Linked DNA regions of Homo sapiens: region 1 is linked to region 2. Evidence: fine-mapped expression QTL. Tissue or cell type: aorta. Region 2 holds a variant in brackets; the other region holds the start of a gene. All regions are shown on one strand. Distances are from middle to middle.

Evidence for each region. PIP is the estimated chance that this variant, and not a neighbour inherited with it, causes the effect.
Region 1: TRPM3 starts here. The variant in region 2 is fine-mapped to the expression of TRPM3 in aorta (GTEx, PIP 0.93).

Annotation. Positions count from the first base shown.
Region 1 is chr9:71,120,042-71,122,806 of GRCh38, reverse strand. It overlaps TRPM3 (transient receptor potential cation channel subfamily M member 3), which reads left to right and starts at 1,186. Exons shown (of 26, transcript NM_001366145.2): 1 at 1,186-1,629. The coding sequence starts at 1,453. RefSeq lists an enhancer at 1,541-2,378.
Region 2 is chr9:70,922,906-70,925,670 of GRCh38, reverse strand. All of the region lies in intron 1 of TRPM3 (transient receptor potential cation channel subfamily M member 3), which reads left to right. Among named protein-coding and RNA genes, the nearest start is that of MIR204, 110 kb to the right of the region's middle. The variant G/A (reference allele first, on the strand shown) is at 1,222.

The DNA of each region.
Region 1 (2,765 bases), 200 kb before region 2:
GTCTGCCTTCCACCCGTGGACTAGTTTTCTGCAATATCTTTCTTAAATTTTTGACACAAGACCATTGTGAGTGAAATGGTGTTGTAGCGCAGTGTGTCAGGTATTGATTTCATGCTGGGGTGGGCCTGTGTTGTCCCGGTTCTGAATTACAGCAGTGTATCACATCTGCTTGCACCACTCCCAGTTCAGCTCTGACTGCATAATAGTCATGGAGCTGGGATTTACCAATCTCTTCAAGTTAATTAGAAATGGAAAATCAGCATGGTCACAGAGGAAAAAATAAATAAGATGGCGATGCTCCAAGGATGTGGGGATTCTCCCCATAGGAGTTGTCAGGTCAACTGCTCCCACTGAGGTCCGATGCCTGGGGGTACATGGGAGCCGAAGGGGGGTTGTGTCAGGAACTCCCTTCTCATCTCACCGTCCCAACTTACTATGTGAAATTATCCAATTTCTACCTTCAAATTGAAAAACTGTCCTTTAATTCTCTCTCTCACCACAGGAGTCCTAAAGACTATACATTCCAACTCAGCAACTATTTCATACAGCCTCCTTAGAAAATGATGGGGGTGGACACCCCACTTGAGGAAAATCCATTCTTTATAGACAGCATCCCATGTGGCACTTTATGGGTTAAACTTGTGTTGCAGAGAAGCGGTATCAAGTGGCTTTCCAGGAGATAACCCCCATTTAAAAACTGCCATCTCTAAAAGGTGAGCCAAATGCCCATGAGTTTAAACTGCTTTGTATGAAAGGAACAACCCAGTGTGTTTGAGTTTGCTTCTGTCTCAGTGTCTGTCATCTATGCAACCGATTATCAGGATGAAGACTGTCAATCACGGTTAATAAAAACCTCAGAACACGACACAGATCTCTTTTACTATAGATGTATTTGATGATAGCCTCACTTTATTATGTCACATAAATCAAAAGGGAAGCATTTATCTCATCATTCGGAGGCACCCCTTCTCTCCCTGTGTCCTCACCCCTCCCCCCGTACCAGTTCTCAGTCCCTCAAAGATGCTTTGTGCAAGAAAGTGCAAGTTTCCCGTTCTGGCTTCATTTTTGTTCCCTTTTGCGATCCTCCTGGCTCCCCCCCAAACCAAGCTAGCAAAGCAATGGCCCCGGTTCCCCCCCAACGCCTGACCTGCGTTTACTGGGAGGAGAGCGGGAGAGGGAGCGCGCATTCTGGAGCAGGCTGCTTTGACTCCGACCACAGGCTGTTTTGTGCAGGCTGTCCCTCTTCTTCAAAATCGTGCATCCCCTCCCCGAAGCAGCAGGCAGTGTGCCTCCATTCAGCCACATTTGGTATGCATGAGCACGGCTGCAGAGAGAGGGGAGGTGGCTGTTTTAAGAAGGTTCAGGGGCTCAGGCAAGGCTACTTGACTAGTCTTCCAAGTTCCAGGAAGCCTCTGCCCTAATGGAATTTGCAGGTGTGGAGATGACCATGGGATGCCAGAGCCGTGGGGGACCGTTTATTTTCTAGGCATTGCTCAGGTTTTCAGTTTCTTGTTTTCCTGGTGGAATTTGGAAGGGGTCATGAATCAGGCTGATGCTCCTCGACCCCTAAACTGGACCATCCGGAAGCTGTGCCACGCAGCCTTTCTTCCATCTGTCAGACTTCTGAAGGTACTGTAACTTGCAGCTTTGAATGGCGCTAATTGTGCTTTTTAGATTTAAATACCCAACTTGGGGACTTGGGCTGGGACGCACCTTTGGGGGAGCCTAAATGCATGCAGTACTGGCTCTGTGGTCCGTGGCTGGAGAGAGGTTCTCAGTACTCCTGCCCTCCCCCCACGCCCCCCACCCACACCCCGTGGTGTCAGAGACAAGAGGCTGGTGCGAACCACACTCGAGAAGGAGATTTTGGTCTCAGAGAATGGGCTACCTGGTGCTCCCCCACCCCTTTTAACCATTCCTAAAACAGAATTAATTAACTTCTTTGGGAGGGTGGGAATAGTAGTGGGAGTGAAATCTCTTACTCCCTTGTGTTTGGCTCCTGGGCTTTTCTTTCTCTCTCCCTGGGGAAGCCCTTCGACCCACTTTCCCTTTAAATGGAACCAGAGAGAACAAAGGATTCTCCTCATTAGTTTAAAAGCTTTGTGTAGTTAGGTGGCCAGTCAGGTGAAGATGAACAAAGAATGAGCCTCCTCAGACAGTGACTTTTTTTGTGTCCTTGTTTTTAGAAAAGGCATAAAAATGTGAGTCTCCTGAGTGGAATCAGTAGTGGGAAAGTATTGTTAAACATATATTGAATGTCAGCTCTCTCTCTAGCTGTGAGTCACACAAAAGAATGGCACTACACCTGAGCAGGAATTGCCACCGTGTGTCTGCAGCGCTTCTCTTTCCAGAAGCAAATGCATTAAAGATACTGAAAAAGTCCATACAACTCTGTACTAATCCACCTTCATGATCTTTCTTGTAGGGGGGAAAACACAAATTAGATTTAAAGGTGCAGGAAACAAGCATTTTTGCCCAGTAAATAGAAGGTGGTAATACTTAATAGGGAAAAATAAATATCTCTGATGTTCTATATCCATTCGAAGTTAAAAAAGGCAAAGTTCTTAATTCTCTTTTCCTGAGTATGTATGCTCTTTTGATTTAGTGACCACAGAGCATTGAGTCCAGTGGGCTACAATGGAGAATTAATGAATTAGCCCTGAATACGTTACACTTGGAGAATTTTGTTCTGAGGATGTGTTCTGGTTAGGTAAGATTTGATGGGGACAGTTAGTTCCATACAGCTAAGTGGTGCCTCACAACAG
Region 2 (2,765 bases):
ATTGCCTATAGGTGTTATTAGAAACTTAATTGGTGGGAAGTAAGAAAGCTGCATTGGAGCTGTGAATAGACAGGAGGAGATATATATATATATTCCATATTCTGTGAATAGACAGGAGGATATATATATATATTTTTTTCCATATTCTACCAACATTTGTTCCATGATATTTACTGTAGAAGCAACACAGAATTTGTATGATGACTCATAATCTTTTATATCTACCTTGTTTAAGACCCACCTCTGACTCCCACAGCCTCCCTAAAACATTTACTTCTATGTCTCCAGGAAAAAAGTCTAGTGTAATACATCATTGCGGTAGGGTGGTGATTCATTATTTATTTGTTATCAGTACTCTCGAACACACATTGTTTCCATCAATACTGAGCAAAGATTGGTTTTATGTTTGAGCAATTTTAATAATACCAATGTGCAAAGTAGACTTCGTTGAACGCCCTTAAGCAACCTGGCTCAAATCAATCAAAAGTTATCATTTGCTGTGTAGCATTTAAATGTTGGAAAAACAGCACCATCTGCTGGAAAGGGGCAGGTAGGGCTATACATGTTAGCCAAGTACTGGAGAATGTGAAAGCCAAAACTCTTGACTGACTCAAGTGAGTCCGTGCATATCCATGTTCATGCAATTCACGTTATGAAATGGCAATTGTGTACGGTTCAGTGGAAAGAGCGCAGAATGAAAGCTGGCTTCTGGCTTAGGTTCAGCGATCATCATCTTCTCCTTCTCCTTTTCTTTCTCCTTCATCTTGAAATCTGTGTAACCTTGTAGAAATTACTTCTTGAAAATAAGAGTTCTTAGATGGTTGTTGGGGGTAAGGTGAGTATAGCACCTGAACTTTCTACCTTGTATTAGTCAGCTAGAGAATGGTTATTAAAGTACTTAACATTCACAAATCATATCAGGACTATAAGGCTTACGTATTAGTGTTAACATGTCAAATTTTAGCTTAGCGCAAAAATATGGTAGAAACCGAGCTGGCCTGACGAGTATTCTAATATGCTGCCAGAGAGACTGTTAATCGTGAAAGCAATTTGGCAACAAGACGAAGAGCTTTAAAAACATTCATTTGGTTTGACTCAGTCATTGTACTTCTAGGAATCCATCCAAAGAAAATCATTAGAGAAATGAAAATAGATTTATGGTCAAGAATGTTCATACCAACATTATTTAATGATGTTGAAATACTGGAAATGGAACTGATT[G/A]TCATCAGTAAGGAGTATTAAATAAGTCACATGATAAACTGTTGTACAGCATTAAATTCATGCTTTGAAGAATAATGATATGAAGAAATATTCACAATATAATTGTAAGTAAAAAATAAATAGTATATGGAAGTAGATGACCAGTGTGACTATAATTTTGGGAGGAAAGAGGAATCAAGGAAGGAAATAAATATTGGTATTATATCAGCCTTGTTGCTATTTGGGGCCATATAAGTCTTTGTTGGGTATGTGGGGGCTTTTCTGTGCATTAGATGATGTTTAGCAGCATCTCTGGCCTCTAGCCAAATGTCAGCAGCACCATTTCACCCACAAGGAACAACCAAAAATGTCTGCAGACATTGCCAAATGTCCTAGACGGGAGACAGCAAAATTGCCCTCAGTTGAGAACCAATGTTCTAAAGGAAAACAGCACAAAGATATATATATATAGATAGATAAATAGATAGATAGATTGTGTGTATATATATATGTGTGTGTGTGTATATATATATGTATATATGTGTGTATATATGTATATATGTGTGTGTGTATGTATATATGTGTGTGTGTATATATATGTATATATATATATGTGTGTGTGTGTGTATATATATATATATAGAGAGAGAGAGAGAGAGAGAGAGAGTGTGTGTGTGTGTGTGTGTTATTTGTGTTGCCAGTATTACTCGGCCAAGCTGGATGAATAAGCTAGTTAATAGGAATCAAATGGACAGCTTTCAGAGTAACTCACTGGCTCTCCAGGGTCTTGCCTAAAGCAAGTTCTTAGGAAACACATTTGACAACTGGCAAGAAAAATTCATAGGAAATACAAAGATTTTCTGACACATGACCCTTAGGAATCTAGGCAGTTTTCTCCTTGTATTAATGGCATTACTTTATATCCAATTCTTGGTAAAATAGTTACTTTTTTTCTTCTTTGTAATTTCTCTATTTTTGTATTTTTCTACAATTAACATAAATTCATTTGTTATTAAAAAAATTAAATACATTTTAAGAACCCCCATGGGAGAGGCTACAAAGCAAATTTTGTAATCCTATCTAGTGTTCTGTTGTAATCTTGACGGATTTTATCCTCTCTATATATCCTCCCATCATCCCAAAATAGGACAAAACCTGCAAAATTGCAGTTTTGTGAACAGGTATTAAAAAGTATAAAACGTGAACATGAACATGTATTAAAAAGTGTAAAACGCCATGAAGATGAACACACAGTTATTTTAAGCGACATTTGCTTTCAGGTTTTTTAGGCTTTTTTTGTTTTTATTAACTAGTTCATCTAAATGTTTACAAAAATTAATAAACCAGGTAATTTATGGGTTCCACTTCATTGCCCCTGGATAGGCGCTATCTTTTATAATAGGCCCAATAGTCCACTCCATTTGGAAAAACCAAAGTCGGAAAGATCAATGGCTTTTTCTCTTGGTGGCCATTACTTTTGATACGTGGATCAATTACACTGTTTCAGATGATCTCATAGCAGATGAGCTTTTGTGGAACATGTTTACAGAGTCTCTTCTCTTTTC